Linked DNA regions of Homo sapiens. The protein of the gene in region 3 interacts with the protein of the main gene of each other region in a pairwise test. Each region holds a gene or a part of one and is shown on either strand. Other genes may lie near its edges. The genes, in order: HCK, TMED8 and MDK.

Region 1 (3,744 bases), on a different chromosome or scaffold from region 3:
GCATGCCACCATGCCTGGCTAATTTTGTATTTTTAGTAGAGATGGGGTTTCACCATGTTGGCCCGGCTGGTCTAGAACTCCTGACCTCCCAAAGTGCTGGGATTACAGGAGTGAGCCACTGTGCCCAGCCAGGATCCAGGTTTCTTGAGCTGTGACCTCGGCCTTCGGTCTTGGATGTACCGGGGGATGCTGCTTGACCCCTCCCCTCAACACACAGTGAAGGGGTCGGTCCAGATCAGTGTTTTCCGACTAAGTTTGGAGAAATCACAGGCCCACCAGTGATTTATATTCCATAAATAAAGGCTCTGTTATGTATGTGAAACAATCTAAGTGTCCATGCAAGGGGGAAGTGACACCTAAACTATGGCATTCTAAGCAGCTCTTTTTTTTTTTTTTTTTTTTTTTTTTTAAAGAGACAGGGTCTCCCTGTATTGCCCAGGCTGGAGTGCAGTGGCGTGATCATAGCTCATGCAGTTCGAACTCCTGGGCTCAAGTAATCCTCCTGCCTCAGCCTCCCAAAATGCTGGGAGTACAAGTGTGAGCCACTGCACCTGGCCTGTGTTTTTATTTTCAAGAAGAATGTATTTGTGTGTCACACAATAGGATTATTGTGAGGATTAGGGTGTTAATAACCGTAAAGGCTTACAACAGTGCTGGGTTCATAGTCAGCTTTGTATAAACATAAAAGAAGTTGGTAAATACCTCTCCTAGCATGACTGCTTCTCTTTTTACAACTCTTGCTGTTGTTCCTGCTGCTACTCTTGGTCTTATACTCACGCAATTATGGTTGGTACTATTAGTATGACAATTGTTACTGTATTTTTGCAATGCTGCTGATACTACCATTACATTGTCACTTCAGCTGCTATCATTACTGTTCACTCGTTTCTCAGCACTGCTTTTGCTTCTGCCCAGGCCGGAGGCCTGAGATGCTCACTCACACCTGTTTGGTGGAGCTCAGGCTGAGGGGCCAAGCCTGGGCTGCAGGAAAGAGAGATGACTTCTTTGCCCCTATGCATGCTGGCTGGCGCTGCGTCCCGGAGAGTCGAGTCAGGACACTGTTGGTGGCCAGTCAGCTCCCTTTCACCCCAAGCTCACCCTGCCCAACCTTGGGAAGACAGGAGGCTGTTAGGGCAATGTTGGGGCAGCATCCGTCAGCCCCCAGGGAAACTGGGACCTCCCCTACTCACCGGCTTGATGGTGGATGTGGGATCCGGCACGTACACAGGACAGTGTGGGCTGGCGCTGGTTTCAGTTTTTGAGAATGTATTGCCTCCGACCTGGAGGAACTTGGACTTCATGCACCCCATCCTGCAGCAGACAGAAGGGAGGTGAGCCCCAGTTACCAAGAGCCTCATGCGGGGAAGTCTTCTGATGCTGGCATTCCAGGTCCCCTGCCCCCGGGCTGGCTCCCACTGGCCTTCCCGGTCTTAACTCCCCTGCCAGCTCCATGCACCCTTATCCTCCCCACATGGAACCCACTCCATCCTTGCCACCTCTGGGCTTCCCCATGTCCACGTGCCACAGCACTGGCCCAGGGCTGACAAGCTGTCATTGTCGTGGGTACCAAGGACCAGCGTGATGGATGTTTATTCAGAGGATGGCATGAGGATAACAGAAATGTAACAGGTAGAGCTGTTGGGTGGGCACTGCCAGCTCTCAGGTCAGAAAGCCTCAGCTGATCCTTGGCCCCTCCACCCCACCAGCACCTCACTGACCACTTTCCTGCCCCTACCCACCTCTCAGGTCTTCATCGGCAAAATGGGGACAATAATATGACCTACAGTGGGGAAATACTCAGTGCAGTGTCAGGCTCAGAGCAAACACTACAGAAAAACTGCAGTATTATCAGATGATAAATTGCCATTTTTATATTAAATAACAAGATGAGGTCACATAACATGGCTCAAACAATCTAGTTTGTCAAGGCACCGTATTACTGGTATCAATTTATAAATTGCTTATAACTCCTTCCCTCCCTCCCTCCCTCCCTTCCTTCCTGCTCCCCCTCCTCTTCCTTCCCCCTCCTCCTCCTTCCCCTCCTCCTCCTTCCCCCTCCTCTGTCCTCCCTCCTCCTCCTCTTTCTTCGTCTTCTTCCTCTTCCTCTTCCTCCTCTCTTTCTCTCTGTCTCTCTCTGAGTTGTTTGGTAATTCATTCATCCATTTACACAGCCAAGATTTACTGGGCACTTTTCTAAACTGTGAAGAAGAGAAGCAAGTTCACGCCCTCAGGACCTCAACTGCAGCCGAATGGGAGACAGAGACAATAAACAGGCCAACAAATAAATAACAGGGCAAATTGAGTTAATGAAAAGTGTGAGGACAATAAGAGAGGATGCTGTGGGGAACAACAGGTCTGGCTCTTTTAGGCAGGGCATTTGGGGAAGGCCTGTCAGAGAAAGGGATACAGAACCTGCGGTCTAAATGACACAAAGGAGCCAGTGAGGGGACACTCTGAGGGAAGAGTGTTCCAGGCAGAGGGAACAGCAAATGCAAAGGCCCTGAGGCTGGCATGTGCTTAGAGAGAAGTTGGAGGCACTGAAAGCAGGAGAGTGTAGCTGAAGCTCATGGGCAGGGAAGAGGGTGGTTGTGACAAGGCCACCATATCCTGTAGGGCCAGTAAGGACTTTGGATTTTATTCTAAGGATGATGGAAAGTTTCTGGCAGGAGAATGATGGGATTCAATTTGCACTTTAAATAATCCCACCGGTGGCTGAGTGAGGCGTGGACAGTGGGGAGCAGGGGAGGGAACCCTGTGAGAAATCTGCCAAAATTGTTCAGGTATGAGATGATGGTGGCCCAGGGTAGTGTGGGGGCAGAGAGGAGGTAAGCATTGGACAGGTTTGGGGGACATTTTGGAGGTAGAGCTTGCAGACTTTGCTGCTGTATTGAATTAATTTAAGGATGCTTAAACAAAACACATTTACTCCAAGTAGAGTCAAAACATAATTGTAAAAGTGGAAGAAATGTTTCATTTCTTTTCTCAAAATGTGCACACACATTTGCTGAGAAGGCAGGCTGTGACAACCACATAAGGAAGTGCTTGCTTTTCTCATCTCTGCACAATTGCCATTTTCTTCTAAAGCAGTTAGAACTCAGTTATACTTATCTTGTTAAAATAAACATGTATTTGTGGTTTAAGGAAAAAAACCCCAAACTCCTAGGCTTAGATGAGTTACTTTTAAAAATGAAAAAAGATTCCTTTTATTTACAAGGATTTACCTCTTCTGGTGGGAACTGGGAAAGATTTGCCACCTCAAGACTTGAGCGGTTTTGCTTTGTTTGTCTTTTGGAAATAAAATAAGGAACACATTCAGACTCTTGGAGTGCTGGATCATTAATTTGAAAAATTATCATAATTAAGCACAGATTTATAATGTACTTGCATGCATTTAAAACTGAAACCAGCATCTCTCTTTGAGATAAATGTGTATTACAGTTCTGGGAAATTAAACGGGCATCTTGTGTGACATATATGACATAAAATTATATCACATTTCGTGTGTTTTGGTCAGCATAAAGATGTTCTGGGAAGAGCAGCACTGTGTGAGGTAGGGCAGCTCACTCTACCTCTCTGGGCACCCACTGATCTGCAGCTGTGAGTCTTGTGATTTCCAATCCATGCGCGTTGAGCACCTTGTATGCTTCACTTACGTGATCAATGTACATATTCAAGATGGCCACAGGGTCCCGAGGGAGGGGTCTCAGAAGACCTGTGTTCATTCACAATCCAAGGCCATCTCTG
Region 2 (3,744 bases), on a different chromosome or scaffold from region 3:
TAGATGTCAGGGGGAAAAAAAAACACACTCATCTATCTAAAACGCGTGGGTACGTTTGCCATAAACACATGAGAACCTAAAGGGGAAGTAAAAACATGCTTAATTTGTAAATACTGGCGCATGCAAGGGACAAGTGTTATAAGACTTACCTTTCTGTGTTTACTTGCTTAGTCTTTTAGACATTATGCTTAGAATTTCTACTGCTATGTTAAATATATGCCAACGATTTTTAATTTAATACAAAGCAGAGTTCGTAAGAAAAAAAGGCAAAATTTGTCAGGTGTTTTAAAGTAAAAGAATATAAAATCATGGGAAAGAGCTGGGTGAGTTGTGTGTGTGTTTGAATAAGGCAGCATTATGAGAGGGAAGATACTTGGGATCAGAGTAGAAGACAGAAAAAGGCACCATGTTGGAAGCCATACATCCAAGAACACCTCTGGCGGCACAGGAAGTTCAACTGAACAAAAAGAGACCTTACTGTCACAATGGTTGAGACGAGTATAGTGTGTACCATGGACTATACCCCAAATGCCTTAGACAAAGCAGCTCAAGTAATCCTCACAATAATCCTATGAGGCAGATATTTTTAGTAATCACATTTTACAGATGAGGAAACTGACGTTTCAGACTCCAATCCAGGCACCCTGGCTCCACAGTAGTGCCTCAACCATTATACTTTATGGTGTCTATTTTAATTTCAGACCTAGAAAATTAATTTATATTTGCTACTTAAATAAGACAAGTTCTCTCCCCTCTACCCTTTCGTATTTCAAAAGAGCATCCTTTCAGTTGCATCGTGTGTGGTGTTCAGGAGGCTGAAAGAAGAAAGTGTGATGGATGGACTCTTTTGTCTTTGGACACTGAAATAATACACACGGAGGAACTCGCGTTAGTAGAAATGGAGACGTCGTCCTGGACAAGAAGAGGATGAGGGTCTTGAGAATGAGGGAGGTAGGCCAAATTTTTAATTCCTGCTCTTGCTTTGGCTACTGTGTTCAAGCAAAAGACCCCAGACACTACCTATTTCAACTCTGCTTTTCATTTTTCCCACTCTAAGCGATGGAGAGGATGGCAGCAAGGCCAGGGGGCCTATGTGCAGGAAGGCTAGGGCGCAGTGGGCTTCTGGCAGAGGAAGGCAAGGCTGCCAACCCGGGTGGGGGCCGAGAGGCGCGTGGTAAGGCTGGGGCAGGGGACTGAGATGGGGATAGGGTGGGGAGCCAGAAGCAGGGGGCGGCGAGGCCAGTAGGGTTCGGGTCGGCAGTCTAGATGTGATTAGCAGACGGAGGTGGGACCCGAACCCCGGCTGAAGCTGAAACTGAAGCTGAAGAGGCGCCAGGGGCAGAGCCACCCTGTCACTACCATTTGGGCAGATCTCAGAAAGGAAGCGGGGCAGGAATCAAGGCATTTCGAAACAGGAGTGAGTAGAAAATAACCTCGAGCCCAGGGCCCGGGTGGTGGCAGCGGCGGGGAAGGGGCCCCGCGCGCGAAGGGGCTGCCGAGGTGGGTCCGCTCCGCGGGGAAGCCCAGGACAGAGCGCGGCGGAGGCTCGCGCCGTGGTGCGGGGCCCTGAGGCCGGGCGGCACCCACCCGCCAGCGCCCCGGCCTTGCGTACCTGAGGCGGCCGCCTGGCTCCCCTCCACTCCCTGGCAGTCCCCGACGCCGCCAGCCGACCCTGGGCGGGCTGTGGGGCTCCAGGAGCCCGGCCCCTCAGCCGCCTGCAGGTCAGACATCTGCAGCCCGCGCACGGAGCTCTCCGCTGCCAGCCGCGAGTGGCTCCGGAAACAGCCGAAGGCCGAGCGAGCGCCGAGCACAGCCGAGCGCAGCCTGCAGGCCGGAAGAAGCGGCGCGGCGGCCGCTTGAAAAGCTAGCTGACCCAGGGGCGGCCACAGGAGCTCTGGCCCGCTGAGGCTGGCGATGAGGCCGCAGGGAGGGTTACTGCGTGCTTGTGACAGACGATTTTTAAAGTCAGGGCTTGAAAGAACAAACAAAACCTGGGGAAGAGTCAGGAAGACACTGCCGGAAATCGTGGTATCCATAGAGACGCTATCGGAAGTTGGGGTTGCTAGGAAGCCGCGGCGCGTCTGCTAAGCTGCAAATGGCTGAAGTCCCGGAGGATTATGATTCCGGCCCAGATGAAGATGGAGAGCTGGAGCCTGAGAGGCCTGAACTGCCTGGACTTCATAAATTGTATGAAAATGCCGAACCAGACACCATGGCAAAGGCAGACTCGAAGCTACCAGCAGAGATTTACCAAGAGCCACAGCCAGAGACCGAGGAAGAGGACTTCAAAGAGGGGGAGCCAGACAGTGCTAAGAACGTGCAGCTGAAACCTGGCGGGACGTCCCAGGAAGGAATTGCCAAGGAGTCCAAGAGAGACGTACCAAGCGAAACTGAACCAGGGATACACCAAGAGGTAAAGTCGGAAACATCCAGAGAGATGGGAGAGTTTTTCAAAGATTTGGAGGCCCCTATGGATGAAACGCATAAAGAGTCAGACCTAGAGCCACCAGAGGAGGCTAAACCAAATGTTACAGAGGATGTGTTCCTAGAGTCAGCTATGGAAACAGATCCAGATCCAGTGCCACCAACGGAAACCATGTCTGAGGTTTCGGGGGCCACAGTCAGAGAGAGAAATTTAGAATTACTAGAGGAGGAGACTGAACCGGGGGTTCCAGAGGAATCACTTAGAGTGCAACATGAAGAGACAGGTCTAGAGCCTCCAGAGCAGACCAAACAAGATTTTCCAAGTGAGAAACTAGGAGAATCACTTGAAGAGACAGATCTTCAGCCACCAAAGATGACCAAACCAGAGACTCCAGAGGAGACACAAAGAGAGTCAACTGAGAAGAAAAGGACAGAGCCACCCGAGCAGGCTAGACTGGAATTTCTGGAGAAGGAACCAAGAAAGTCTAGTGAGGAGGCAGGTCTAGAGCCTCCAGAAGAGACTCAACCAGAGGTTCCAGAGGAGATGCAAAGAAAGGCAACTGAGGAGAAAGGGACAGAACTACCTGAGCGGACTAAACCAGACTTTCCAGACCACAAGCCAAGAAAGTCTACTGATGAGAACGTTCCTGAGCCACTAGAAGAGATCAAATTAGAGTTTCCTGAGGAAGAATCAAGAAAAACAAATGAGGAAACAATTCTAGAACAATCAGAAATGATGAAACCAGAAAGTCCAGAAGAGATAAGAAAGTCAAATGAGAAAAAAAATCCACAGCCACCAGAGGAGACTGGTCCAGTGCTACCACAGGAGATCAACCCACAAGTTGAAGAGAAAACACAAACAAAGCCAACTGAGAAAATTCTAGAGTTACCAGATGAAACCAAACCAAGGGAGACACATGTAGAATTTTCCAAGGAAGACAGGCCAGAACCAATAAAGTCTAAGTATTCTGTAGGAAACGATGAGCTAGAGCACCGTGAGCCTAAAAGAGGAAAGTTGTCACTAAGTGACAAATTTAGAAAAGAATATTACGCATTAGGATCTCTCAGAGAAAGTGAAGAATCAATTGGTACACATTATGAGTTTTTGCAACCACTCCAAAAATTGCTTAATGTCAGTGAAGAATGCTCATACTCAGATCCCTCAGAGTCTCAGACAGAATTAAGTGAGTTCGTTCATGAAAAGGAAGTTGTAGATTTGTCCCAAGAGTTGAAGGAACGGGTCTCTGAAGATGACGAAACCCAGCCAGAAAAAGGGACTGAGTTACAATTTGAGCATCTTAATTGGGATCCAGAGGAAGT
Region 3 (3,744 bases):
TCCAGTCCTAGTCCTGGTCACAGCAGCCCTGGGCATCCTCAGCCTCCTCACCTGAGAAGCGGGCAGATTCACCCCTGCCCTGCTGGCCTCGCTGGGCTGAGTCACGAGTGAGCTGAGAGGCCCAGGGTGGGCCTTGACCTCCTCCCAACACTAGAAAGGGCAGAGCTGACCAAATGCTGCCCGTGGCTGGAGAGCTGACAAAGGCAAGCCGTTCCAGGACACTCTCCCTGGGTCCTAAGCCAGATGCTCCAATGGAGTAGTTTGAGTTGGTCCCTATTTGGGCCAGGGAGGATTTATGTCCCCAGCATCACCTGCGGCCTCTCTTGTAGTGCCCATCTTCAGACTTTTCCAGGCAGGGAAGCCAAGTGAGGCGATGTCAGGAAGCCACTGGCCAGGACTCAAAACTTAAGGTTTAACTTGGAATTGTCCCCTCACAGGCGGGGGGGGGGGGGGGCAGCCCCCCGCGACAGCCCCACCCCCTTCTCCTTTCGCTGACCTTTGGCCTTTGCTTTGGTCTTGGGGGTGCAGGGCTTGGTGACGCGGATGGTCTCCTGGCACTGAGCATTGTAGCGCGCCTTCTTCAGGGTGCCTTGGCGGACTTTGGTGCCTGTGCCCCCATCACACGCACCCCAGTTCTCAAACTTGTACTTGCAGTCGGCTGGCGAGAGAGCGGCCCAGGTCAGCGCTGCGCGGCCCGCGGCCCCGCCCTCCGCCAAGGGTCCGCCCAGGCTTCGGCGAGGCTGTGCCCCCCGTCTCCTGCCCTCTGACTGCGCCCCGCCTCACCTCCAAACTCCTTCTTCCAGTTGCAGGGCACCCTGCACCGGATGCGCTGGGTCTGGGCCCCGCAGGTGCCCTCGCGGAAACCCACGCCGCAATCCTTGCTGCTGGGGGTGCAGGGCCCCCAGGCCCACTCAGCGCACTCGCTCCCCGGGCCGCCCTTCTTCACCTTATCTACAACGCGCGAGGAACAGAGTTCAGGACTGGGGCACGGGGAGACTCCCTCGGGAGCCGCCTTCCTGGGGTTCCAGGCTAGGAACCCAGGCGGCCCAGCCCAGAAGTGGAGGGGCCTCGCCTGCCCGTCCCCAGCCCTCCTTCGATCATCCCCCATCACCTTTCTTTTTGGCGACCGCGGAGGTGAGCGCCAGCAGGGCGAGGAGGGTGAGGAGGAGGAAGCCTCGGTGCTGCATCCTGAGGGGAGAGCCCGAGTCTGAATCCCTGGCCCGTCCCCTTCCCCACCGGGGGCCGCGTGCAGGGCCCTCCCACCTCCGCGTGCTCCACTTTCCAGGCCCCAAGTCGGGCTGCTAAGGTGGCGGCGGTGGGAAGACTTGGGGCGGCCCCTCGCCGCTAGCCCGGACGCACCGCTAAGAGGCGACTCCCCGGGGGACGCCTCGAGCCCAGGACGCAGCTCAGACCCCCACCCCCGCCTCCAGCCCCCAGCCCCTAGATCGGCCGCGGCCGGGCGGACCAGGGGCCGCCGCGCGCTCACTCGCTCGCTGCCCGCGCTGCTTCGCTCCCTCCCGCGCCGGGCCCGTCCCGCTCCGGCCGCCGCGGCCCCTTTTGTCTCCAGAACCGGTCTGAGCCGGTCACATGGGCCCCCGCCCCCTCTCCCCACCCCCCCAGGGAAGGACCCGCCCCGCCCCCTCCCCTCAAACCCGCACCGCCCCCGACCCCGGCGTCCCCGCCCCCGCTCCAGCCCGCGCCCCCCGCGCTTCTACTCCGGCGTCCGTGTTCCCGGCCCCGCGTCCTCGCGTCTCCCCGCCGGTGCCCTCTGCGCTGCGACGGCGGCCTCTCCCGGCCCCATCTTCCGAGCGGTGGTCTCCCGACCCCGGGCCCCGTCCCGCCCGCGCACACCGGCCCCCGGCCCACTCCCTGCGCCGCCGCCCGCTGCCCCCATCCCAGGTCGTCCCCTGCCGTACGCCAAGGCCCGGGCCGTTCTCAGGCCTCAGCTTCTCTTGCCTGCCGCGGAGCCCCGGCGCCTGTATAACCCGCGGGACCCGCTCCCCTCCACGGCCGGCTCAGCCCTGGCGCCCTGCTGGCTGCTGGGGAGGGGGCGCGGCCCACCTGGGGCGGTTTCCGCGGGTGGGCAGGGAAGCGCTCTGCTGTGCTGGGGGGAGTCTGGGACCCGGTCGCCCAGAGAAAGCCACGGGTGCGGTCGCCCAGTGCCTTTCCGGGAGCACAGGCTTGAGGGACTGCGAGTGGGGGTCCTGGGGGAGGAGCCCGCAGGCCTGGATTTGGTGAAACTTGGCGCTGACAGGAGCCGTCTGAGAAGTTCCAGATCCAGCCACATCGGCAGCTGCAAGTGCCCACCCCCTCTAACCCTGGGCCTGTGGCATTGCCTCGCCCGGTTCCCCCAAACCGGGAGAGCCCCCGAGGCCTGGGGGAGGGGCTTGCTCAAGGCCACAGGGCAAATGGGCCACAGAACCCGGGCTCGCCCCCGCCCCACCCCTCTTTCACTTTCATTGTTGTTCTCCGCGGGAAGCGGGAAGCCGGAGGGATCGGCCCCGCCCCCGGCCCCGACGAGCGCGGCCGCCGGGCAGAGGTCAGGAACCGGGCAGGCCCTGGGACCAACCACCAAACGGGAGCCGGGGCCCCAGGAAGGTGCTGTCGACAGCGTCCAGTCCCCCACCCCGAGGACAACCCCGCAGCCCCCGCTGCTTGTTAGACCTCCCCCGCAAAAGAAGAAAAGCAGAAAAGAAAAAAAAATCCACTTTACTGAGTCACACCCAGCTGTAAACATGTCACCGTGAGAGTCCCGCCCCCCACCCCCAGGCCGCACAGTCCGCGATGAAATGACAGGGGAGCGGGGAGGGTCGCCGGAGCGGGTGCCAAGCAAGGCAGGGCAGGCAAGTGCAGCAGGCGCTGAGTTTCCGGGAGGAAGCCCGGAGGAGGTGGGGTGGGGCAGGAGCGGGGGCTGGGGACCCGGCCGAAGACCAGGGGGCCCAGGAAGCCTCTTCCCGAAGGCCTCCCCCTCTCCAGCCCCTCCACTCCTGGGAGGGCATCTGCTGCGGCCAGGGAGCGCCCTGCCCCAGAACCCCGGCAAAGGCATATCCAACCCAGCCGTGTCTTGTTCCCTGTGAGCCTCCGGGTCCGGCGGGGTCCTCAGGGGAACAGGTGAGGCCCCCCCAGCTCCTGAGTCCAGCCCTAGGTCTGGGCGGCTCCTTAGGGGGCGGCATGGGGCTCTTTCCCTGGGGCCTAGGTCCCCCCGTGGCCGTCCCACTGGAATGTGGCAGTGAGGTGGGCAAGGAAGGCGCTCGTCCCCTGGCCGCATTGTCCCTCCTGCTGCCCGTGGGCGGCCCGCTACACAGCCGTCTCCTGGTCCTCCCGCTGGATCATCTGGTAGTGCTGCCGGTTCTCCAGGTAGGCGGCCAGCTCGGTGTCCTGAGCCTTCTCAGCCCGCTGCCGGGGAGTGTCGCCCTGGAGGAGGGCGGAGCTGCGATCAGCAGGGGCCAGAGGCAGGCCTAACCCCTAGCAGGCTGAGAGGCAGGGGCTCTACCTCCCTGTGGCCTGGTCAGGGAGGGAGGCCTCTCTGCCCACCAGCTCCTCCCCTGCTGGCTCAGGTTTCCCAGGGTCTGGACTGTGTCTTCCCAGGGACAGCCCCCAGCCCCAGCTCCCGCCTAGGACCTTGGGAAAGGTTTGGTTGGTGCCCTCGTGGGCTCCCTGCCTGCCGTCTGCTCACCTGCTGGTCTGTCTTCATGAGCGAGGCCCCGGCCTCCACGATGTAGTGGCAGATGGTGCGCTGGCCCA

Evidence for each region.
Region 1: the proteins of MDK (region 3) and HCK interact in binary tests that used the Homo sapiens proteins (3 or more experiments, as listed by UniProt).
Region 2: the proteins of MDK (region 3) and TMED8 interact in binary tests that used the Homo sapiens proteins (3 or more experiments, as listed by UniProt).

What each region holds. Positions count from the first base shown.
Region 1 is NC_000020.11:32,069,229-32,072,972, reverse strand, and holds part of HCK (tyrosine-protein kinase HCK), read right to left. Parts: intron 3,286-3,744; exon of another isoform or gene 3,222-3,285; intron 1,312-3,221; coding exon 1,191-1,311; intron 1-1,190. UniProt on the Homo sapiens protein: Non-receptor tyrosine-protein kinase found in hematopoietic cells that transmits signals from cell surface receptors and plays an important role in the regulation of innate immune responses, including neutrophil, monocyte, macrophage and mast cell functions, phagocytosis, cell survival and proliferation, cell adhesion and migration.
Region 2 is NC_000014.9:77,375,324-77,379,067, forward strand, and holds the start of TMED8 (protein TMED8), read right to left. Parts: upstream 1,772-3,744; 5' UTR 1,731-1,771; coding exon 1,613-1,730; intron 1-1,612. Other genes in the region: SAMD15 (sterile alpha motif domain-containing protein 15), read left to right, coding at 2,096-3,744.
Region 3 is NC_000011.10:46,379,501-46,383,244, reverse strand, and holds the start of MDK (midkine isoform a precursor), read right to left. Parts: upstream 1,577-3,744; 5' UTR 1,487-1,576; exon of another isoform or gene 1,189-1,486; 5' UTR 1,188-1,188; coding exon 1,112-1,187; intron 952-1,111; coding exon 784-951; intron 659-783; coding exon 497-658; intron 1-496. Other genes in the region: DGKZ (diacylglycerol kinase zeta), read right to left, coding at 3,298-3,414, 3,677-3,744. UniProt on the Homo sapiens protein: Secreted protein that functions as a cytokine and growth factor and mediates its signal through cell-surface proteoglycan and non-proteoglycan receptors. Binds cell-surface proteoglycan receptors via their chondroitin sulfate (CS) groups.